Homo sapiens: one gene and its partners. The protein of the gene in region 4 purifies or fractionates together with the protein of the main gene of each other region. This does not show direct contact. Each region holds a gene or a part of one and is shown on either strand. Other genes may lie near its edges. The genes, in order: SGSM2, UTP15, FTSJ1, DCAF13, FAM76B, UTP14A and CPSF7.

Region 1 (3,500 bases), on a different chromosome or scaffold from region 4:
GATAAACACCTGGGGGGTGAACACAGGGCGGCTCCACCTGCACTCCAGCACCTTCCCGCAGCCCACCGCCTCCTCGGGCCAGAAGGGAGCTGGAATGCAAAACTCTTCACACCCCCTCTCCCACCACAGCCTCCAACACTGTGGCCACGGGGCACCAAGCCAGCTTCTGACCCAGCCAGCCAGGCGGAGAGAAACAAGCCTCTGGCCAAACATGAAGACACGTCTTCAGCCCTGCTTGAAGGAACAGCCCCAGGTCTTCCTGTGGCTACTGAAGGGAAGTAGGGGAGCCAGGGGGCTGAACGCTCAATGGCCAGTTTGAACTCAGTCTCATTCTAGAAACGCCTGAAGTCATGAGACCGGGAGAATGGCCTTAGTGTTTTGGTGTGGCTGGGTGGAGAGAAGCCTAGAGGTTTTAGGAAAAACAAGTTTTGCCTTATTTTCAGTACTGAGTGTTCAGCAGGACAAGACAGGAACGTTCTGTAGCAAGCACCTAGTCAGTTCCATTAGCCCTCAGGCAAGGTGGGGAGATGTAGGAAGGAAAAGCAAACATTCTGCCTCCTAGATACAGTCCACCACCATGGACAAGGCACGAGGAAAAGAAGAGACACATACAGAGACTGTTTGGGATTTTTCTCTCTCTGTTTTCACCACGTAGGGAAAGCAATGCTAAAAGTAGTTTCTACTTTGGGCAGGAAGCATGAAGTGCTGGGTAAGGCCACGGTTCTGTGGCAATCTAATACGCCAGCGAGGAGCTACTGCTGTCCATGAGCTCAGCAGCTGGGCACTGGCACAGACAGATTTTTACAAAACCCAAAGCCAGAGAGAGGGAGAATGTGTTCCTGGATAGGGGATTAAGAACAAAGCACGTGGGAAATGACAATGTGCCTTGTTTGTTCTATTTCTTTTTTTTTATTTTATTTCTGAGGCAGGGTGTCTCACTCTATGGCCCAGGCTAGAGTACAGTGGTGGTATCACGGCTCACTGCAGCCTCAACCTCCATGGCTCAGGTGGTCCCCCCACCTCAGCCTCCCGAGAAGCTGGGACTACAGGCGCACCCCAACACATGCGGCAAAGGTTTGCATTTTTTGTAAAGACAGGGTTTCGCCATGTTACCCAGGCTGGTCTCAAACTCTTGAACTGAAGCAATCCTCCCACCTCTGCCTCCCAAAGTGTTGGAATTACAGGCATGAGCCATCACACCCAGCCAGTTATATTTAACTTACTTCAACTTACATTTTCTGTTAATGTTGGTAAGGATTTAGTAAAGTAACAAGAATACACATTATCTAAAGAGGCAATTTTAAAGAAAAATTAATAAAGCGTCCTTAAAATTGAAACTTATCAGTGTTGGTTGGGCCAGGCAGTCACAGTTTAGAACTTGCTGTTCAAAAGGCAGGAGTGATGCCAGAAAGAGCTACCCTCCCGTGCTCCGAACAAGCCTGCCATAGTCAGTTCTGTACAGTGACAGGCAACATCGCGGGGAGGAAGGATCTCGCCAGTCGACACCAATGGGGCTGCTCTACGGGCTCCCCTATTCTCAGGCCCACAGATCTCAGGAAGCCTCTGCAGTCAGAGGATATGGGTGGAGAGGGGAAACTGAGACCCAGAGACGGGAAGTGCTTGCCCAGAGACATTCAGCTTGTCAGTAGTGGATCTGGGACTAGAACCCAGCGCTGCCTGTTGCTAGCTTTGAGGTCTTTCTACAAGGAGGAGGGCTTCCCTAAATCCCAGTAAGTCCATCTTTCCCTATAGTTGGCTAAAACTGAGCACAATGCACTCTCTCACTTTATTCCTACAATACCCAGAGAAGTAGGCAGCAGAGGCACAGTTAGCCATTTCCAGTTGGAGAAAATGAGACACAGGCACCTTAGGCCTTTCTCGCAGGGCCCCACCAGTTCCCAGAGGTCAGGCTGGTGCTCAGGACCACTGTGCATAAAACGCGGGTGGCCCCCGAGACCCCCAACCCTCCAGGTCCCGTCTGGCTCACATCGTTGCTGATGGTGGAGTCTCGGTGGATGAGGCGCTGCACGTGGCTGTCGATGCTGCTGCCTGAGGAGAACTTGGTGCGTGTGGCTGGGTGGGCCTCCCGCTCCCGCTGCCTCACCACCACCTCGCAGGCCTTCCACTCTGCCAACACCTGCTGGTACCTTGCTGCCACCACTGCGTCCACCTGTACTCAGACCACACCACGACCATGGGGGAAGCGTGCACCAGGCCCTCCCCTTCAGGAGCTGGGCCTGCACTGGACCTTGGGTCCTGAGTCTCAGACTCAAGACGGGCCTCAGGGTAAGGACGGTGGAGCTGCCCTGCCATGCTTCTTTCCGGCTGGGAAGGGGCTGAGGCTTCCAAGGTCCCCTCCCTGGCGTCCCCTGGCCCAGCTCCCCATCTCATCAGCCCCATGGGAACAGGCTCCCCTCACCTGCTCCATCTCCTTCTTGCTCATGCCGAACTTGTAGTGGCCAAGCAGAAAGGGCCAGACGTCCTTGCGGATCTCGTGCTCTATGCCTCCGTAGTAAACTTGCCGCAGCAGCTCCAGCTCTTTGTAGTTCTGAGGGACCCGGGGAGTCAAGACTGTGCAGCCTCCACAGTCACCGTGGCCCAGCTGGGTGAGCCCCATCCCACGGAGAATGGGCTGGGGCGGGGCCTGTAGTGACTGCTGAAGCCCAGGCAAGGCCTGCTTTGGGGTGGCCACGTCCTCCCGTGCCCCAGCTCACAGTGGGATGAGATCTCGTTCTGCTCTCCTTCCTTAAGGGGCAGGAAATGGCGCCCGGAGAGAGGCAAAGCTTTGTCCAGGGTCACAGGGCGATGTGGAGGCAGGACGGCTTCCCAGTCCAGCCCCCTTCCCGTGTCAGCCCCAGGCCCAGCTGCAAGAGATTCTGCCGGGACCCTGGTCACTCCGTGGCATCGGCCCTGGCCTGTCAACCGCACCCACTGGCACATTTTACCCTGAAGCCCTCACTCCTGCCCGCCCCAGCCCCTCGACCTGTGGCCCTGGAACCCCAGGGTTGGCACCTTTTTGTCCTTCTGATACTTGCTCCACACGTCCTTGGTGAGGCCCGCGGAGGCCCCCGGGGGCCGGTCAGGTGGGATAACGCTATGGTGCACCAGCGCCGACAGGTGGGTCCGCACCGTGGACAGGTGGCGGCAGTGTGCCAGCCCTGCGGTGGGCAGCGGTGGGCAGCAGGAGGCTGGGACCCAGGGCCGCCCGCCCCCAGCCCGCCACAGCCCGGCGCGCCCCACACTCACAGCCGTAGAAGGCCCGGGACACGATCTGCCTCTTCATACTCTCACACAGTAGCCTGAGCGGCAACCTGTGGCAACAACCGGGCTCAGCAGGGAGGGGCTGCGGCCCCTCTGGTGGGAGGAGAGAGAGAAGGGAGGAGGCTCTGTCCTGGGGGGCAGGTAAGGCACTGGGGAGGGTGCGAGGAGGAGGAGCCGCAGCCCAGCAGCCGTCAGTGGGTGCCCTGTCCCTGCCTGCCACCTGGACAGAGTGCTGTGGG
Region 2 (3,500 bases), on a different chromosome or scaffold from region 4:
CTTAAAAAAAAAAAAAGAAAAAATTATCAATGAAAGCACATCACAAAGCCAAGTGTGATGGCTCACACCTGTAATCCCAGCACTCTGGGAGGCCAAGGACAGCAGATTGTTTGAGCCCAGGAGTTCAAGACCAGCCTGGGCAACTTGAAGAAACCCTGTCTCTAAAAAAATAAATTAAAAAAAAAAAAAGAAAGAAAGAAAGTACACATGAAGCCAAAGATCAGGGATTCTCAACCTCAGAATTACTGTCATTTTGGGGCACAGAATTCTTTTTTGTGGGGGTTGTTCTGTGCATTGTAGGATGTTTAGCAGCCTTCCTGGCCTCTATCCCCTATATGGTAAGTACCATGAGTTGTGATAAAAAACAATACTTTCTCAAGATATTGTCAAACGTTCCTTGAGGAACAAAAATCACTCTTGGTTGAAACCACCACAAATAGAGCCAATTTACACTTAGCTTTTAGGAACATACCTAAGAATCAAGTCCCAAATTGCCGAGTAACATGATTTCAGTAACATGTGTAAACTTGCCATGTATTTACATAAAAAATTCCTTTGTATTAAAAATATTTTCTAGCTTTTAAAATATGTACAGTCAATCCTTCTTATGGCAGGTTCCACATCTGCAGATTCAACCAACCATGGATTGAAAATATCCATAAATATATAAACAATACAGAATTTTAAAATACAGTGTAACAACTATTTACATAGCATTTGCATTGTATTAGGTATTACAAATAAGCAAGCCATGATTTAAAGTATACAGTGGATGTGTGTAGGTTATATGCAAATATGCCATTTTAAATAAGGGACTTGGGCATCCACAACCAATTCTCCTCAGTTACCAAGAGATGACTGTATACTTTTTAATTAACATGCTGAAAACTAAAGTTTTTCATAAGAGCAGAAAAAAATGAAAATATGGAAATAAAATAATAAAAAATAGATCATGTAAGCCGGGCACGGTGGCTCACGCCAGTAATCCAGCACTTTGGGAGGCTGAGGTGGGAGGATCTGTTGAACTCAGGAGTTTGAGACCAGCCTCGGCAACATGGCAAAACCCCATCTCAACAAAAATACAAAAATGAGTCAGGTACAGTGGCGCGTGCCGGTGGTCCCAGCTACTGAGGAAGCTGAGGCGAGGGGATCGCTCGAAGCCAGGAGGTGGAGGTTGCAGTCAGCCAAGATCATGCCACTGCCCTCCAGCCTGGGCGACAGAGCAAAACCCTGTCTCAAAAAAAAAAAAAATTAATAATAAATCATGTAAATTCTAGAACTGTGCCATACTTCTAGCTGCACATGGCTACTGACCACTTGAAATGTGGCTAGTGAAAATGAGAAACTAAATTTTTTATTTTATCTAATTTTAATTTAAAAACTGAGACAGTAATTTTTATAAAATATTATCTTTTTTTTTTTAGAGACAGGGTATCACTGTAACCCAGGATAGAGTACAGTGGTACTATCACAGCTCACTGCAACCTCAAACTCCGGCTTAAGTGCTTCTCCTGCCTCAGCCTCCCTAGTAGCTATGATTAAAGGTGTGTACCACTGTGGCCAGCTAATTTTTTTAATTTTTTGTAGAGATGGGGTCTCACTATATTCCCTAGGCTGGTCTCAAACTCCTGGCCTCAAGTGATCCTCCCACCTCAGCCTCCCAAAGCACTGGGATTACAGGTGTAAGCCACTGTACCAACCTAAAATATGATTATTGTATCATAGTGCACATGTTTAGATGCTTAATTTATTTCTAGTATCTTAATAATTTTGACATAGATTACATACTGAAATTATATTTTATATGTAATATATATTTTATTTTTACATTAGATATTAGGCTAAATAAAATGTGCTATCTAACTTTTAGGTCAGGCGTGGTGGCTCATGCCTGTAATCCCAGCACTTTGGGAGGCCAAGGTGAGTGGATCACCTGAAGTCAGAAGTTCCAGACCAGCCTGGCCATCACGGCGAAACTCTGTCTCTACTAAAAATACAAAAATTAGCCGGGCAAGGTGGCAAGCGCCTATAATCCCAGCCACTCAGGAAGCTGAGGCAGAATCGCTTGAACCCGGGAAGCAGAGGTTGCAGTGAGCTGAGATCCCACCACTGCACTCCAGCCTGGGCAACAGAGCGAGATGTCATCTCAAAAAAAAAAAAAAAATTAATTTATCTAATTTTTAAAAAACTTTTCAGGCCAGGCACAGTGGCTCACACCTGTAATCCCAGCACTTTGGGAGGGCGTGGTGGGCAGACCACACGAGGCCAGAAGTTCGAGACCAGTCTGGGCAATATGGCGAAACCCCGTCTCTACTAAAAATACAAAAATTAGCCAGGCATGGTGCTGCACACCTGTAATCCCAGCTACTTGGGAGGCTGGGTCACGAGAATCGCTTGAACCTGGGAGACAGAGGTTGCAGTAAGCCCAGATTGTGCCACTGCACACCAGCCTGGGCAACAGAACAAGACTCTGTCTCAAAAAAAAAAAAAAAAACTTCAAAATATATGAATGTACAATAATGATTTTAAAAGATGGTTTATAGAATAACATTATTTGAAAGATTATCATTCAAATGGTTCAATAATGTTGTTTAAGTATACAAGTTAAAACAAATTGTGTCAAAGGAGAAAATAAGTAGCTATGGGTGGCCGGGTGTGGTGGCTCACGCCTGTAATCCCAGCACTTTGGGAGGCTGAGGTGGGCGGATCACGAGGTCAGGAGTTCAAGACCTGCCTGACCAACATGGTGAAACTCCGTCTCTACTAAAAATAAAAAACTTAGCCGGGCATTGTGGCGCGTGCCTGTTATCCCAGCTACTCAGGAGGCTGAGGCAGGAGAACCACTTGAACCTGGGAGGCGGAGGTTGCAGCGAGCCGAGATTGCACCACTGCACTCCAGCCTAGGTGACAGAGTGAGACTCTGTCTCAAAAAAAAAGAAAAGAAAAGAAGTAGCTATATGTAAACAAAAGGTCAAAACTATTTTCAACTCAACAGGTTTTTTTCTCCTGGAAATCATTATCTGTATACTTATCACAAATATTGCTGAAATAACTCATTTCCTCAAGCAGTAAACAGGTGTACACTAATAATAATATACAAAAAAATTAAAATGCCAACCTATCCAGTGAGCCAGAGAGTAACCTCTGTCCAGAGCTGCTTAGACATAAACATGTCACGGTTTTGTGATGATTTTTCAAAGATACTAGCAATTGTCCTCCTTTTAACATGTCCCAGACTTTAACATAACGACCTCCTATAAAAAGAAATCATCGTTAGTTGGATATTCTGCCCACAGATTCAACATATTAAAGATCTGAAAAGCATTCTTCTCTGGACACTCCACAAAGCATGGAGGCTGAGTGAGGGAGTCCAGGCCAGGCTGCCTGGTAAAATCCTGGATGCACCACTTCCTGGGTCATTGGTAATAACAGTTCCTACCTCACAGAACTGTTATGACCATTAAATAATATTTGTGAAGTGTACATAAATTCCAGCAAAA
Region 3 (3,500 bases), on a different chromosome or scaffold from region 4:
GGCCAGCTGCCCCTTCCTCTTCAACGTGCAGGCCTCCTGGTATGGTGGCGAGATGGGGGGCTGTGTGGGTGGAGTGTACTTGTACTCTGAGCCGCCCTCTAGCTGCAGGGACAGAGGGGTAGGGAGATGGTGAGGACCTGGTAACCTAGGACAGCCTCCCTCCCACCCACCTACTGTTGGTTGGGCACTCACGTCCAGTGGGTAACTGCGGTCCGAATCATAGGAGCTCAGGTCCCCACAGGTCACAAAAGGCACAATGATGCGGGTGGGACCATCCAGCTGGTTGAAATCTGGGTCTTAGGAACAGGGGGAGACAACTGAGGACAAGGTCAGGATGCCTGGGGCCAGTCATGACACAGGCGGCGGTATGGCTGCCAAACCCTCCCCACATATCCACCAGCTACTCTCTTCCCACCCCACCAGAAATCCTTCATTTGGTTCAGATCACCTCCTCGGGGAGGCCCTCCATAATCACCCCTTCTAAAACATCGGTGCCCTGCTATTTTTCACTGCATTTATGTCCACCTGATATTGGATTATATGCTGCCTGGATGACGTCTCCCTCACTCAAATGTCATCCCAGGGGCAGGCTCTGTCTCTTCCTGCTAGAGGCTTAAGGGGCAAAAGTTTCACACCGAGGAGGTTTCCACCTGGGACATGACTGAGATCTTCCTAGGAGAGAATGTCCTTAGGCAGGTGGAGTCTCCACTGGGGCAGGGCTCAGGATCCTCCTGGGATGGAATTTTCACCAGGCCCAAGAGTTACCACTAGAGGACTGCCTGGGCTGAAGCTCCTCCCGGGACAAAATACCCATAAAGGGGTGGGATTTCCATCAGAGAATGGGGCTAAGGATCCCCTTGGGAAAAAAATTCCCATGAGGGGACAGAGCCTCCCCCAGGGGGTGAGACTGTGGGCCCTCATGGGACCTAGATTGCATAAGGTGTGGCAGAGTCCCCCAGGGTGGCCCATGCTCCAGCTCTCACCGTAAGAATGGTCCAGCAGGGGTTTGCTCAGGTCCGGGATGAAGCCCTCGGGAGGGTCATAGCCCTGACAGACAGCGAAGGCCTCTGCCAGGGGAAGGTGGAGTGAGGCATGACTGCCGCTTCCTCCTCGTGCAGTCGGCGTCCCAGAGATCCCCCTCTGCCTGCCTGGCCCCTCCACCCCACTGACCGATGCTAGAGTTCCGGCTGCTCCTGGGCTTGGCACACAGCACGCTGGAGAAGAAGACCTGCAGCTGGCTGTAGAGGAGCGTCACATCCCGGCCTCGGAATATCTGCAGGGTGAGAAGGCAAAGACAGCGGGTGAGGGTGGCCCTCAGCGACCTCCCTCTACTCCACCAAGTTCCTTGAGACTTACCTTGGCCACAAAGCAGCCCCCTGGCTTCAGGACATGTGTAGCAATGTTCAGAGCCTGTGGGCAGGACAGACGGCTGAGGCTGAGGTGGAGACAGCCAGGAGGGGGCCAAAGTGGGTCAGGGGTGGCCAGGGTTACTCACAGCTAGGAGGAGCTGGGCCTGCATATACTCATCAACATCATGGAGACCGGTTACTGTGGCAAGAGGAACAGCGTTAGGGGGGTCCCATCTGGCTCTGTGCATCTTCTTGTACCACACAGATCAGACACTAAATACATTTTCCAGGCTGTCTTACTGCTAAGGTTCCAGATGCAAATTACTGTCTGCCAACTGGATGCATATTCTGAGCTCCTAACCCTTAGGAACTCATTTCAATTCTAAAACAACCTCACACACAAGCATCATTATCATTTCCACCTCCAGCCCAGACTGTTCCTCTGAACTCCAGATTCACAAATCAGATTCTACATCTCCAATACATCCACAACCAAACTCCTGACCTACCTCCCCAAACCTGCTCCTCCCACCATCCTCCCCATCTCATCTGAGCTTTCTAATTGTTCAAATCCAAAACCTTAGTCACCTCTGATGCTCCCCCCGCATCCTCTCCTCACACCCACATCGAAGCCATTAACACATCTACTTTCAAAAGATCTGACTTGATCTTCTCCTCTCCACCACTGCCCTCACCCATTATCACTTGCCTGGACTACTCCACCCCGGAGCCCCTGCTTCTGCCCTTGGCCCTCACACAGCTCATAGTAGCCCAAGCCCAGCACAGTCCTCTTCTCCTCACAACCCTCTCATGGTTTTCTCCAAGCTCTCATCTCGGTGAAAATGCCAACAGCCTCACCATGGCCCACGAGGCCCTATAGGATCTGTCCCCTGTTACCTCTCTGATGTTACCTTTTACCACTCTCCCCCCCTCACTCTGTTCCAACCACAGTGATCTGCTTGTCATTACTCATACATAGCAAGCACCCTCCTGCCTCAGGACCTTTGCACGGGCTGCAATTTTTCCTGGATTGCTCTTCCTCCAGACATATCCATAGCTTACTCCCCCACCTCCTTTAGTCTCTGCTGTTAAGTCAGTGAGGCCTTCCCCATCCACTTGATTTAAAATTCCAACAGGTACTCCTGCTTTCCTCCTGCTCAATGATTTCCCTATGGTACCCATCCCCCACCCCACCTTTTTTTTTTGAGACGGAGTTTCGCTCTTGTTGCTCAGGCTGGAGTGCAATGGTGCGATCTCAGCTCACTGCAACCTCCGCCTCCCGGGTTCAAGCGATTCTTCTGTCTTAGCCTCCCAAGTAGCTGGGATTACAGGCACATGCCACCACACCTGGCTAATTTTTGTATTTTTAGTAGAGATGGGGTTTCATCATATTGGTCAGGCTGGTCTCGAACTCCTGACCTCAGGTGATCTGACCACCTCAGCCTCCCAAAGTGCTGGGATTACAGGCGTGAGCCACTGTGCCCGGCCTCCTCACCCCGTTTTTTTAGAGAGAGGGTCTCACTCTGTTGCCCAGGCTGGAGTGCAGTGGTGCGATCAAAGTGTACTGTAACCTCGACCTCTTGGGCTCAAGTGATCCTCCCACCTCAGCCTCCTGAGTAACTGGGACTATGGGCATGCATCACCATGCCAGCTAATATTTTAAGACAGGGTCTTGCTATGTTGCAAGGCTGGTCTCAAACTCCTGCCTCAAGTGTTCCTCTCACCTCATCCTCCCAAAGCACTGGGATTACAGGTGGAAGCCACCATGCCTGGCCCCATCCCCTTTTAATGGTACAGAGCTGAATCATTTATTTTCTTTCCCATTTGCTCCCACTAGAACATCAGCTCCATGAGGTTAAAGATTAATGGAATTTTATTCATGAATGTTTTCCCAACACAATAGGTGCTCAGTAAATGTGTGTTGAATGGCTGGCTGGCTGAAAATGAATGAACAGTGCAACGGAATTGGACAGTTGCAGAGAGATGAGAGCAGGGAAAGGTAGACAACAGACATGAAACTCAAAGGGTGGGGTGCAAGTGGGAGGAAGAGAGAGGCAGAGAGAGAACAGGCAGCAGAGGTAGGGAGAAGTTGCCAGATGTGGGAGAAAGCTGAGTGCGGAAGGGAGAGGCAGGGAGTAACTGAAGAGGTGA
Region 4 (3,500 bases):
TTTATTGTTTATATTTTAACTTTTATTATGTGTCACATTTTTCTGACTAAACTGTAAGTTGTTTGAGATTAGGAGACTGGGAGTTAAGCATTTCTATTTTTATATTTACTATTCTGCCTGTGTATTTAAGAAGCAATTACTGATTGATTTCTCTTCCCATTGCACTGAGCTGAGTACTTTACACATAATAGGTGTTTATGAAATATTTGCTTAAATCAGTGGGGAAAAGAAAAGGAAAGGAAGTGGGAAATTCATCCATTCTTCCTTTCTCAGGTTATCTTAGATATGAGAACAAATACAATCTGTTGGAACCCTATGGAAGCTTTCATTTTTACAGCAGCAAATGAAGATTATAAGTAAGTTTCCCTCTTTTAAAAACTTGTGTATTTCTATCATGAATGGCTTAATTGTATAAGTCGTACTAATAAAATATATACCACTAGGTAGGTATACCTATAAAGTTTGAAAACTGTCATCTGTTTAGCTTTAAAAAGTTTTCCAAATTGGAGAAGAACTTCTTAGAAAAGTATTTATTTCGTCAGTATTTAGAATGATGTAGACCAGGGACAGTAAACAACTCGTGGACCAAATCCTTTCTGTTGCCTGTTTTTTATAAAGTTTTATTGGAATATGGCCACACCCACTTACTTATTTAGATATTGGATATGGCTGCTTTTGTGCTATAATGCCTGAGTTGAATAGTTGCAGCGGAGACCTTATGGCCCACTTGCCTGAAAATGTTTAACATTTGGCCCTTTACAGAAGAAGTTGGCTGATGTTTGATGTAGGTCTTATAAATAATGACTGAACCATACATGTTTTAATGGAAATGAAAATATCTGCCTGCAATGTTTGTATTGCGGTGAGTATCAGGTAGCTGATGCTCATGTGGTCATGTTATCAGCTATCACTGTTCAGTCAGATGGAAGAAAAATTATAGTTATCTTTTCAGTATCCATATGAGGTAGGTGGGACATGCATGTTATCCCCTTTTTAAGATATTAAAGCGGGGAGATTAGTCTCCCAGGGAGGAAAGAGTATCTTATCTTTTTTTTTCCCAAAGCATTTATTATAGCGCTATGCCTTTGATAGATTCTTAATACATGTTTTTTTTAAGAAGGCAGAAGTTTGTTGGTGGATTGAACTTTAGATCTTTGTATTGTTTTATGTTCCACTATGTAGATTTGGAAGCAAAAAAGTAGTAGTGTTAGCTCATAAAAGGATTTATTATATGATGTTTTAGTGGTACCAACTAAAAGCATCTTTTATGACTTTCTGCTAAAAAGAGGTTTAGTCCAGGAGTTTGAGGTTACAGTGAGTTGTAATTGGGCCACTGCACTCCAGCCTGGCCAACAGAACAAGACCCTGGTGTCTTAAAAAAATAAAAGAAGCTCAGTTAGACTCTCATTAACTAGCAATACCAAACCACAGTAATTGAAGCTTTTTTTTTTAACCTTTATTGATGTTTTGAAATTAAGTGGCATTGTTCCAGTTAAAGGCAATAAAAGACAAGAGTAATACAGCATTATTGTGACCAACCTCATTAAGATTTCTAAAGAATGTTCTAATAAGCTATTTTAGCAAGGTACCGTTTTTCAGAGTGTCCTCGGAATTTCTCATTCCTTGCCTTGAAAAGAATTGCATATGCCACCTGAAACAAAGAGCATATCCCTTATAATAAGTGACTGTTGGAGTATCATAATTGCTCTTTGAAAATGATCTTGCTTTTGTATCCCTTTTCTATATTTGTAAGTATTTTTTTCTTTTATTGCCCTTTAGATATTCTAGTCATTCTGAATTAGAAACCTAAGTTCAAGTCTAGGCCGACCAGTAATTACTGTATAAACTTGGGCAAGTCATTTAAACTAACTCTATATCATAGTTTCAGCATCTGTAAGGTGAGGGTTAGAATAGATGATCCCTAATGAATCCTATAATGTGGAACTTTGTTTATTTAAAGGTTTTCCATGTACACAAATTGATATGCTTAGAATTGGAATTCTTATCATTTTTCCCATGTAGAAATAAAGCATCTTACTAAAAAGCAGTTTGCTGGAACCAAGCAAACCTAGCTGAAAACCACTGTTCTTAGGCAGGAACTGTAAAGCAGTTGTCAATGTCTTACTACTAGTAATGTTAACCTTGATCATTTGGTTAGGGTGGTGTCTGCCAGGTTTCTCCACTAAAGAGTTACTTTTTTTTCCTTTTGTAATTATTATATATCTTTGGGGAGATACTTTGAAACTATGTAGATATCCTCTTCTCAGACTTCTACTCACTAATCTTAGCATCTTCAAGTATTTTTATATTAGGAACTTGGTCACAATATTGCTGTATTACTTTTGTCCATTGTTCATGTTGGTTCATTTGAAGCACTATTCTTTTAGCCATTAGATTAAGAATTTTTGAATCTTGAAACTCATGAAGTCATTGTTTTTACCAATTGTGCATAAAGTATAGTTTCTCATTTTGATTCACCCTTTGAAAGGCCATGTTCACTCTTACATATCACCAGTAGGAGTATAAATTAGTGCAACTTTGTTGGCAGTGATTTGGCAACTCAAATCAAGCCTAAAAATGCTCATGCCTTTAAGCTTAACAATGCTACTTGTAGGAATCTGTCCAGATTTAATTGAACCTGTCCCATTCAGTTAAAGATTGAATGTTAAAAATCCAAACGTTGGGAATTTAATAAGCATTATATATAATAAAATGTTGGAAACTATTAAAATATAGGGAAATAAATTATTTGAACTTATATATACAGCCATTAAAATATTTTCAAAGATTGTTTAATAACATGGGTAATGCTCATTAATATGCTACGTGAAATATCAGAATATAAAGCTTTACATAACATTTCAATTTTATTAAAAGTATGTATTTAAATAGTATGGTGAAAAAGGTTTTTTAAAAAATTATGCTGTACTAAATAACTGGCCTCTGGGTAGTAGAATTCAAGGTAATTTTTGTACTCTACTTTTTTTGAAATTTCCACATTTTCTACAATGAGATTTATAGGGTGGAAAATGTGTTGGTATATATATAAGTGGAGTCTTAAGGAATCATAAAAACTGTTGAAATTTTTCCTTATCCCTCACCTGCTTGTGTACAGCATTGAGCTTTTTGTTTAGATGTGCATTGTTTTGCAAATGGTTCTTGTTTTCAGTGGTATCTTTTAGTACTGCATATGGCATCTTTCTAGAAATATGTGTCAAATATTTAAAAATTCTTTTACAGCTTATATACTTTTGATATGCGTGCACTGGACACTCCTGTAATGGTCCATATGGATCATGTATCTGCAGTGCTTGATGTGGATTACTCTCCCACTGGGAAGGAGTTTGTGTCTGCTAGTTTCGATAAATCTATTCGAATCTTTCCTGTAGACAAAAGTCGAAGCAGGTATGTGCCTACCAGTAAGCCATTTATATTCATATGTCACTTAACAATGGGGATGCATTCTGAGAAATGAGTCATTGGGCGATTTCATCATTGTG
Region 5 (3,500 bases), on a different chromosome or scaffold from region 4:
CTGATTTTGGTAAGACTTAAGTAACAAAGTTGAAGGGATATCACATTTATAAATATACATTTCAAAATACTTCAGAAAATACAGCAATGTATTTACCTCTGTTTCCACAGTCCCTGCTCTTCTTCTGGACTTAGATTGCTGATTCTGAAAAATACACAAATGACATCTAATAATGACATTTATTTATTTAATACATCTAAATTTAACATTCTTTCTCAATGGATACAAATTTTATGTTTATAATATTTTCTTCAGAGAAAGGTATATTTAAGTTTTCAGACTAAGCTAATACATATTGAATAAATCACATTCTGATGAAATAAATTTTAATAAAATGACTGCTAACCATCTCAAGTTCTTCAAGAATTCTTTATAATCAGGATCTCCACAGTTCAATTTAATATCATACAAAGGGTGGGTTACACAAGTAGTTTTCGTGCTTGTGTCTAGGTATCACTGTACTTTGGCTGCCCTTACTATTTCAGACACAAAATTTGTATCTTTAAAGTTAAGGCTTTCCTAATAATCTGAAGTAGAGATTCTTCTTTTGGAGTAACTCAAGTTGCTCAGAATAGTATTTCAATTTAAATGGGGAAATATATTGATTTCTTTGATTCTTTCCTAGTTTTCTTAAGAATCCTCTCCAAAGTCCATAGAGCTCTCTTTAGTTAGTATTCTGGAGAAGTTACGCTGAAACTATTGAGAAATTTCATAGTAACAAATTATTTTACTTTTACTCATAATTAATACTGTAATACTCCTTTTCTATTTTACCCTAATACTAATAATCACTTTATAATTCATCATGAATCCTTCATTTTTTTCCTCCTAAACTTGCATATCAGTCAATGCTTCACTAACCCTAGCTTATTCACTCAGCATGTAGAGAGCATCTCCTATGAACCAGATGCCACGTATTTATACGATTTAGAAGATGTTAGAATACCTGAGCTGTGACCTTATGCAAATTACTTAACATCCCCAGCCTTAGTTCCCTCATATGTAATACATACCTTATACTGATATGAGCATTAAATGAGTTATATATGTAAAATCACTTAGTACAGTGCTAGCATATACAAAATAGACATATATATATATACATGTTTACTTGTGTCTAAAATTTACTATTGGTTCAGCTGTAGAAGTTTTTTAAGCAAAAGAAAAAAACAAACCTTAAGACTCAGCTGTAAACAAGTACCAAGTTGGGAAAAAAATGTTAATAGCAATAATTCCATCAAGTGAGTTATTCTTACTTGTGAATGAATGGAAATCCTATTGAGGAATGCAGTTGTCCCTTTTTTTTTTTTCCCACAAATTTCATTATAAGCCTAACAAGCCATACATGAACTAACAGCACTAACCATATCTCAAAGTTAAGAATAATCACATTAATATCACTGACAGAAACACTTGGAATTCCCATCTTATCTTTCTGAGGGTTGTCCATTCCTAGATTCAGACCCACCTTAGTGCCACCTGGCAACCACATCCCCTACCCCTGCCGATCACTATCTATCACAATATGAATGCTCCTCATTTTCATTCTGATCTATTGAACTTAAGATAGGACCCTACAAAGTAACTGTTCATCAAATGGTCAACAGCCATCAAATAGAAAATAGTGTTTGTATTTCATAAGTAACCAGAAGTAAAAAAATTGAAGACTTTCATTTTCAATACTGTTCTCTTTCCCTTTATTTTTGAAACCTGTCATTCTTTCAAAAAATTAAGTTGCTGTCACATACTTTAGTCTTCACAAACATAATCTGATTGTGTCCTTTTACATCATGCTAAGACAAATTTATCTGTAAAGAATAGGGAAAGGAGACATTTTGGGAGTCTTAGAAGTAGGTCTGACATATGCTATTATGGTATATAGTCATTTTGTCATATTTTTTCTTAAAGCAAGAAGCAAAAACAAGGTAGACTTATATTATTTTGCTTCTTGAAATACTCTGATATAAAGATCACAAGGTTTCTTCAAAACAGCCAGAAGAGAAGACACTGCATTGTAGTCTACCACTGCCACATTTAGAAAACACTACAACATGGTAGAATTAAACATCACTAACCTCAACGTAACCTCATAATCTAATAGGTGATTGGATACAGTTTACAACAAATCTTACTAATTAGACAGAACTACATTACATTCTAAAAATACTGCATGTGTTCCAAAATGAGGTGGGCATCAGTTGTTTGTAAATTCTGTTTTAAATAACTATCTGAAACTTTAAAGACTCACAGAAAAATTTAAGAACAAACAATAAATTATTCTGAAAATGGGCATGCCATATGTCCGTTTTTTCCATTTTAATTTGTGTTTGTCAGTTTAATTTGTATTTTCATGTTCTTGATTTTTCCGTGAAGACTAAAATTGCATTTTAAAAAATCTTTATACCACACACATCAAGGGTTAAGGTACTACTACTACTACATAACTCCCCCCACAGGTCACTTTAAAAATCAAGTACAGCTGACCCTTGAACAACCCAGGTTTGAAATGTATGGGACCACCTATAGGAGAATTTTTTTTTCCCAACCAAATACGGATCAAAAATACAGTATTTGGAGGATGTGAAACCTGCATATATAGAAGGCCAACTTTTCCTATAGGCAGGTTCCACAGGGTCAATTGCAGAACTGGAGTATATGCAAATTTTGGTCTATGAGGGGGTTCTAGAACCAATCCCTCAAGCATACTGAGGGAAAACTACAGTTGTCTCTATTTAAGTAGAGTTCCTAAATATATGTTTGAAAAAAACACAAAGTATCATTAGTTAAAAATATTGCTCATATTTTGGGGACCACAAAGATCAGAAATGCTTCTATCATAGTAACAAATTATAGTATTAAAATATGTTCTCCAAACCCAGTCATTGGTTTGTTTCGATTTGTTTTTACTAAAACAAATTGACAACTAAAATATAATTTTTCAAATAAAACCTTAACAATTATTTAAACAAAAAAAGAATACTGAGGCTTTTGATAAGTTATTTAAGTGTTAATTAACTGACGTACTTGTATTTTGACTTTACATGGTTATAATTTTATAGATTTTCCTAAATATCTGTATTATGGTAAACAGCTCAACATATTTCATGTATATAACATTCTACACTGAATAAAATGGAGACACAGCCTTAGACACTCAAGATGCTTACTGTGTACAATGGAAACTAGACTAGCACATAGTCAATATTTGCAAGAAGTAAACATCAATAAATGGCATTAAAATGCAAGGAAGAGTTTTAGAAAATATGATTTCAAAGTACTTACTTGTGATGGCTACTGCTGTGACGATGGTGATGGTGATGATGGTGGTGATGATGTTTTGGATGATGCTGGTCTTTCTCAGTAAGAGATGAAGAAGATGAATTTGAATGTGAAGATCCCAGGCTCTTCCTTTGTTCTTTCGTCTTCTGTAAAACTCTTTTGTACGATAAAGTACAGAGCCAGCATAATAACTTTCCATCAACCTTTTAAGAAAATGTGTT
Region 6 (3,500 bases), on a different chromosome or scaffold from region 4:
CAGGATGGTCTCGATCTCCTGACCTCGTGATCCGCCCACCTCGGCCTCCCAGAATGCTGGGATTACAGGAGTGAAAATTTCATAACTTTCGACTATCACTCTCAACCCCTTCTTTGAAGCTCCAGTCTCATATTCCATGTGACTAGCAGGGATCACCTGGGTCCCCCATATGCACCTTAAACTTAGTCCAGTCCAAAGTAAGCTTCGCATTTCCTTTCCCCAGACTTCCAAAACCTATACCACCCCCTTCATTCTGCAACTCAGTTAACAGCATAACTCCCTACCCCAGTCACTTAGGTTGGAAACCTCAGTCATTTGATTCCTTCTTGACCCCTTCACTGTCTCCCTCTCCGCCAGCTTATACAGGGGGCTAGACCTGCAAATTCTGTCTCTGTAATAGCCCTTATGCTCCTATTTTCTCTTCATTTTCATTTTCACTGCCCTAATCGAGGCCCTCATTGAACCTTTCCTTTGGAACTTTACATATATCCTCTACACAATCAGCAGGATTTTCTTGCTGAAACACAGTTGATCATTGCTCTCCTGCTTAAAATCCTTCAAAGGCTGTTCACTTACAGAATAAAATAAAATTACGTAGCATTTTAGCTATGCTGGACAACACGTTGTTCTATTACATACCACTCCTTTCCCTGTGTCTGTGTTTTTTGCTTATGCTCATCTGTTTGGATTTTTTTTCCTCCTGACAGAATTGTACTTAGGCCTCAAAGCCTAATTCAAAAGGTCACTTCCTTCCCTAAGCCTAACCTACCTCCCAATAATATTTAATGGTAATTTCCTCTGTGATTACCCCTATAGAATAACGTAGCAGTTATGTTATTTAAGGGTAACATAAAGGGTATTTAACCCATTATGTTATGCTGTTTGTGTTGTATATGTCTCTGCTCTCAAAGGCTGTGAGCTCTATGAGGACAGGAACTATCTTAATCAATTGTGTATTCCTAGCACCCCATACAAGTGCCTGGAATATAGCTACAATCAATAAATGTTTGTAAATTGAATTGAATTGAAGGGACATTACAACATTGTAGTATAAATCACTTTGTAGCCTGAGATTGATCACTACTGCAAATACTAAAAGTGGAAGAACATATACCTTTACTATTCAGTAGAATAGTTTTATGGTTAAATCAATAGCATCGTGTAACATGTGATGATGTGCGTTTATGCATTTATCCAAATATTTGTAAGTTTAATACTGACCACGATGTATATGGCTATTGAAGAAAACCACACATAATATGTGTGTGAGGTTTGAAACTAGCTCTGTTGCCTAGGGCTGTCTTTGTGCCTTGCCAGAATGTGGACCGTGGCATGATCGGCCTGAATATTTAGCCATCCTCATGATAGCATGTGGAATAACTGGTTTACAGTTCATTCGTTTCATACATACTCTGCCTAGCATGTAAAATTAACTGGAAACTGAGGAATTGGAGCCAAAGTTAGAAAATGAGGAGAGTTCAACTTGAACCATCAGGAAACAGGCTGATTACATGAAGGTCTTTTTGTTTGTTTGTTTTTAACATAATAAATAGAGATGGGGTTTCACCATGTTGCCCAGGCTGGTCTCAAACTTGTGGGCTCAAGCAATCCTCCTGCCTCAGCCTCCCGAAGTGCTGGGATTACAGGCCTGAGCCACCATGCCCATCCTATATTTTTTTTCAGGCAATATCCTTTTGTGCTCAAGAAATTAAGACACACACCCCACCACAAACTACATTTGAAGACTCTGCCAAAAAAATGCCATGTTTTTTCTCATTTTCTTTCATCAGTAATTAATGATACCAAGAACACTTATATGCATGGTTTATAGCAGTTGGCTATGGTCAAAAAAAGTTGGGCTTCCCCTCTGAGACATTTGCAGATATATGTCCTAGGTATACCATCAGTGGCAAATAATGCTTATCTTAAGATCTAATCTCACAGGGCATGCTGGGCTCACGCCTGTAATCCCAGCACTTTGGGAGGCCAAGGCAGGAGGATGGCTTGAGGCCAGGAGTTTAAGACCAACCTGGGCAACATGGCAGGACCCTGTCTCTACAAAAAATAAAAAAAGTTAGCCAGGCATGGTGGCTTACACTTGTGGTCCCAGCTGCGCAGGAGGCTGAGGCAGAAGGATCACTTGAGCACTAGAGGTGGAGGTTGCAGTGAGCTGAGATTGGAGTGCCAGTGGACTCCAGCCTGGGTGACAGAGCAAGACTCTGTCTCAGAAAACAAAAAAAAAAAAAAAAAAAACTAACCGCCCCTTCCCTCTAGAAATATTCTAAAAGAAGGCTTATGATATGAATTTGAGATTCCTAACTATAAAGTAATAGTTATGTGCTTCAAATGATACATAACAATACAGGGACTCAAGGGCAATGTGCCTAGATTCTTAAGAGAATGGAAATCAGTTTAACATATATTGGTAATCTGGGCCGGCGCGGTGGCTCACGCCTGTAATCCCAGCACTTTGGGAGGCCGAGGCGGGCGGATCACGAGGTCAGGAGATCGAGACCATCCCGGCTAACACGGTGAAACCCTGTCTCTACTAAAAATACAAAAAATTAGCTGGGCGTGGTGGCAGGCATCTGTAGTCCCAGCTACTCGGGAGGCTGGGGCAGGAGAATGGCGTGAACTCAGGAGGCGGAGCTTGCAGTGAGCCGAGATCACGCCACTGCACTTCAGCCTGGGCGACAGAGCAAGACTCCATCTCAAAGAAAAAAGAAAAAAAAAAACATATATTGGTAACCTGAACACAGTGATCCCCCTCAGCAGTATTAGAGAGTAGCCTCAGCGTCTCCCTGCTGAAGTTGTCTTATATAAGAATCAAATAAGGCTTTATTTATACTTCTGACAACAAGACTGGAACCCCCTTCTCTTGCTGTAACAGCCAATCCTATCCACTTATGATTCCAATTATAGTGTCATAAGTTAGAGAATCATAGGAATGTAAAGAGAGAAAGCTGTAAGAGCATGGCTTAAGACTCAGAATGTTTTGTTGCTTCTTTAAGGCAAGAACTCCCCTGGAGCAGGAAATTTTCAACCTCCTCCATAAGAACAAGCAGCCAGTGACAGACCCTTTACTGACCCCTGTGGAAAAGGCCTCTCTCCGAGCCATGAGCCTAGAAGAGGTAAGTGTGTCATAGGCCCTTCAGCACACCCAGGCATGCCACGCTTCTCCTAGCATTTGTCCTCTGGCCCAGGTGTCACTGTAAGTCTCATTTGTTGTAGGCAAAGATGCGACGAGCAGAGCTTCAGAGGGCTCGGGCTCTGCAGTCCTACTATGAGGCCAAGGCTCGAAGAGAGAAGAAAATCAAAAGTAAAAAGTAAGGAGGCCCCTGTGAACTGGCCTTGGGTTCCACAGAAGAAAGTCATGTGGTTCATCATGAATTCTTTGGAGAGAACCTTTGATGCAGCAACTAGAGTCATGCAGATGAGGTCCCAAACAGGAGTGACTAGCCTTTTGTTCCCCCCAAACCAACCTCATACAGTTTTGCCAA
Region 7 (3,500 bases), on a different chromosome or scaffold from region 4:
AAGCTCAGTTTTCAATGGATAACGAGGACAGGAATGACGTGAGAATGACTATATTTCAAGTAGGATAATGTCCTAAAATAATGAGATAACTGACATAGTTGAGAACTACAAAAAGTTGAAGACACAGGTTGCAGAGGATAACTTGTACACCAAGAGAAGCAAGCCATAGCACTGAATTCTTAAATCTCCATGGCTACATTTTGGTGCCAATGTTGGAATGCAGGCAGAAATCAGAGATTCCTTCAAGTGGGCCAATTAGCCTTCAGGCCCCAGAACTGGGTCTTACGCCGAGAAAAGATGGACAAAGAAGGCTACTGTTCTATTGCTGCCTCTGGACAAAATGTACCTTTCACTCTCAGGGAACAGCTGTCATCATAGAATATAAATATGATTCATTTCTAACTAAAAGGTTGCTATAAATGAGGACCATGTACCATCTTCCCAACATGAAACTTCCTAAGCCATAACTTGGTCACTACAGATGGAATTAAGAGTCCTTAGGGTGAGAATGTAAGAAATTGACATTCTTGGGGTGCCTGATTCAGTTCTTTCAGACTATTATTCAGATGCAATAACCACTATATCAAACGGGTGACCAGGAAAAGTGAGGAAGTAGAAAACCTGCCTCAGAGTTAATTTTTCCCATCTTGTCATGGGCCTACACAAGTCAAATGACTGTTTTCTAGGCAATATTGTTACAGCATTTTCAAAGTTACCAAAAGAGAGTTATCCTCATAATGGGAGAAATAGTCTCATCTTATTTTATTTTTATTACTATTTTTTTTGAGACAGGGTCTTGCTCTATTGCCCAGGCTGGAGTGCAGTGGCACAAACATGGCTCACTGCAGCCTCTATCTCCCGGGCTCAAGTGATCCTCCCACCTAAGTGCCCCCAAGTAGCTGGGACTCCTCCTGCCTCAGCACCCCCAAGTAGCTGGGACTACAGGAGCACATCACCATGCCCAGCTAGTTTTGTATCTCTGGTAGAGACGAGTGTTTTGCCATGTTCCTCAGGCTGGTCCCTGAGCTCAAGCGATCTGCCCCTCTCGGCCTCCCAAAGTGTTGAAGTTACAGGCATGAGCCACTGTGCCTGGCCCCATTTTATAAGTGGAAGAAATAATGCAAAGTGACAGCTAAAGACTCAGGTTGAGATGTTTAATTCTCAAACTACTGCTGGATCAGTGGATCTCGCTGGTAATTTCCCTGTCATAAGGCTGTCAGGAGCAAAGCCATCAGGAATGGTGACATGCATTTATGTTCTAACTACTAAACTGAATGCAGCCCCAAAGACGACAGTGCATGCTCTGCACAGGTCAATCATCACCTTCCTGTTCACTCTTATCCCAGTCAGCTCCAAAAGACATACACTGTAGCCTACATGTGCTTTTCAACCCACAAGTAACACTAGCAACTGTGCAGACTCAAACAAGAAAAGGGAGTTAGGACTGGACCAAGACCAACTCTAATGCCTGCCCTCATGCCCACCTGAGACTGAATTAGGCCAAAGTTGTTTGTGGTCTCCATCTACAATAGCGTCTGCTTTTCCAGAGGATACATGGGCATCTCCCCAAACTCAACCTGTTGCAAAATCTAGAAAGAAGTACCTGGAGCCCACAGCCTAACTGTTGATTCTACATGAGTTAACCTAGATTTCAATGATGTTAAGCACTCTAGGATTTTGTGGAATAAATGAGTGGCTAACAACAGAGAACAGAGACAAAAAATATTAGTAATTTTTCATCTTTCCACTTACTTGTTTGGGAGAAGATAAAAACAATTCCTGGCTATAAATCTATTTAAGCTAATGGCCAAAGAACAAGACAGAGGGCAGTAGCCAAACCTAAAAGGAGTATTTTGGTTTTTAGTAGGTTGTCACTGGGCAAAATACTGCTAATTTTCCAACTATTTACATTCCAGCTACTGCTCATGAACTATAGGGGCTCACAGGTGGTGAGTTTCTTTGTCCTTCTTCATCCAGATATCGCCATCCCAAAGACACCAAAAAGAACTACTATTCTTTCCCCTCACCTTCCTTTTCAATTACCATTACTTTAGATCAAGCAGGCAAATAATCAAGGACATCTTTTTTTTTTTTTTTTTGAGACAGAGTCTCACTCTGTCGCCCAGGCTGGAGTACAGTGGCGCGATCTCGGCTCACTGCAAGCTCTGCCTCCCGGGTTCATGCCATTCTCCTGCCTCAGCCTCCTGAGTAGCTGGGACTACAGGCACCTGCCACCATGCCCGGCTAATTTTTTTGTGTGTATTTTTAGTAGAGATGGGGTTTCACCGTGTTAGCCAGGATGGTCTCGGTCGGGATAGAGACGGGGTTTCACCATGTTAGCCAGGACGGTCTCAATCTCCTGACCTCGTGATCCACCCACCTTGGCCTCCCAAAGTGCTGGGATTTCAGGTGTGAGCCACCGTGCTCGGCCAAGGACATCTTCCTAATGTACTTGATGTGAGACAGAGAAATGGGAAGTCCTAGAGACTTATAAATCTGCAACCACAAAATTAAGAAAGGACCCTGAAGTTACCTGGGTCACGCAGTAGCCTCCAAGAACTACAGACAGACCCCTAGCCACTCTGGCCTATTTTAAAGATTTCCATAGAAGCAGAGACAACACCTGCTCCTATATGCTTATATAATAGAAACAATCTTTCCAGAAGTTTTCCTTCAGTTGGGATTGCTAAGCTGGTAGGATGCAACCTAAAGACACAGCACCCCCTCTGACTCCCTACCAATATGGAGCCTGTCTAAGAATGAAAGCAACAGAGAAAAGCAGAGCTGAGAGATGCAGATAAAGTCTGGATGACACAGCCAGAGCCCCTGGATCCAACCAATCTTAACTGAACTTCTCCATTACTTAAGAGTTTTTATCCCAACCTTCCTGCTTTCATTTTGCTTCAAAAGAAAATTACAGCCAGTCGCAGTGGCTTCATGCCCATAATCCCACAGCACATTGGGAGGCTGAGGCAGGGGGATCACTTGAGGCCAGGAGTTCAAGACCAGCCTGGGCAACAAAGCAAGACTCTACAAAAAATTTAAAAATTAGCCCTCAGGAGGCTGAGGCAGGAGGATCACCTGAGCCCAGGAGGTTGATGTTACAGAGCCATGATGGTGCCTCATGACAGTGCACTCCAGCCTGGGTGACAGAGTGAGACAATGTGTCTATTAAAAAAACAAAAACAAAAACAAAACAAAACAAAACAAAAAAACAGCCGGGTGCGGTGGCTCACGCCTGTAATCCCAGCACTTTGGGAGGCCGAGTCAGGTGGATCACGAGGTCAGGAGTTCAAGACCAGCCTGGCCGAGATGATGAAACCCCGTCTCTACTGAAAATACAAAAATTAGCCGGGCGTGGTGGTGGGCGCTTGTAATCCCAGCTACTCGGGAGGCTGAGGCAGAGAATTGCTTGAACCCGGGAGGTGGAGTTTGCAGTGAGCCGAGATTGCGCCACTGCACTCCAGCCTGGGCAAGAGTGAGACTCTGTCTCAAAACAA

Evidence for each region.
Region 1: the proteins of DCAF13 (region 4) and SGSM2 purify together in Homo sapiens (affinity purification with mass spectrometry, with the first as the bait; one large-scale study listed by BioGRID). This does not show direct contact.
Region 2: the proteins of DCAF13 (region 4) and UTP15 purify together in Homo sapiens (affinity purification with mass spectrometry, with the first as the bait; one large-scale study listed by BioGRID). This does not show direct contact.
Region 3: the proteins of DCAF13 (region 4) and FTSJ1 purify together in Homo sapiens (affinity purification with mass spectrometry, with the first as the bait; one large-scale study listed by BioGRID). This does not show direct contact.
Region 5: the proteins of DCAF13 (region 4) and FAM76B purify together in Homo sapiens (affinity purification with mass spectrometry, with the first as the bait; one large-scale study listed by BioGRID). This does not show direct contact.
Region 6: the proteins of DCAF13 (region 4) and UTP14A purify together in Homo sapiens (affinity purification with mass spectrometry; 2 studies listed by BioGRID, with this or other methods). This does not show direct contact.
Region 7: the proteins of DCAF13 (region 4) and CPSF7 purify together in Homo sapiens (affinity purification with mass spectrometry, with the first as the bait; one large-scale study listed by BioGRID). This does not show direct contact.

The regions. Positions count from the first base shown.
Region 1 is NC_000017.11:2,372,001-2,375,500, reverse strand, and holds part of SGSM2 (small G protein signaling modulator 2), read right to left. Parts: intron 3,312-3,500; coding exon 3,247-3,311; intron 3,159-3,246; coding exon 3,013-3,158; intron 2,549-3,012; coding exon 2,420-2,548; intron 2,171-2,419; coding exon 1,988-2,170; intron 10-1,987; coding exon 1-9.
Region 2 is NC_000005.10:73,572,243-73,575,742, reverse strand, and holds part of UTP15 (U3 small nucleolar RNA-associated protein 15 homolog), read right to left. Parts: intron 3,255-3,500; coding exon 3,119-3,254; intron 1-3,118. UniProt on the Homo sapiens protein: Ribosome biogenesis factor. Involved in nucleolar processing of pre-18S ribosomal RNA. Required for optimal pre-ribosomal RNA transcription by RNA polymerase I.
Region 3 is NC_000023.11:48,479,199-48,482,698, reverse strand, and holds part of FTSJ1 (tRNA (cytidine(32)/guanosine(34)-2'-O)-methyltransferase), read right to left. Parts: intron 1,549-3,500; coding exon 1,496-1,548; intron 1,411-1,495; coding exon 1,357-1,410; intron 1,274-1,356; coding exon 1,171-1,273; intron 1,068-1,170; coding exon 984-1,067; intron 297-983; coding exon 193-296; intron 103-192; coding exon 1-102. UniProt on the Homo sapiens protein: Methylates the 2'-O-ribose of nucleotides at positions 32 and 34 of the tRNA anticodon loop of substrate tRNAs. Requisite for faithful cytoplasmic translation.
Region 4 is NC_000008.11:103,432,386-103,435,885, forward strand, and holds part of DCAF13 (DDB1- and CUL4-associated factor 13), read left to right. Parts: intron 1-273; coding exon 274-356; intron 357-3,240; coding exon 3,241-3,405; intron 3,406-3,500. UniProt on the Homo sapiens protein: Part of the small subunit (SSU) processome, first precursor of the small eukaryotic ribosomal subunit.
Region 5 is NC_000011.10:95,779,783-95,783,282, forward strand, and holds part of FAM76B (protein FAM76B), read right to left. Parts: intron 3,483-3,500; coding exon 3,283-3,482; intron 167-3,282; coding exon of another isoform or gene 145-166; coding exon 97-144; intron 1-96. UniProt on the Homo sapiens protein: Negatively regulates the NF-kappa-B-mediated inflammatory pathway by preventing the translocation of HNRNPA2B1 from the nucleus to the cytoplasm.
Region 6 is NC_000023.11:129,916,164-129,919,663, forward strand, and holds part of UTP14A (U3 small nucleolar RNA-associated protein 14 homolog A), read left to right. Parts: intron 1-3,011; coding exon 3,012-3,131; intron 3,132-3,231; coding exon 3,232-3,326; intron 3,327-3,500. UniProt on the Homo sapiens protein: May be required for ribosome biogenesis.
Region 7 is NC_000011.10:61,405,976-61,409,475, forward strand, and holds part of CPSF7 (cleavage and polyadenylation specificity factor subunit 7), read right to left. Parts: intron 1-3,500.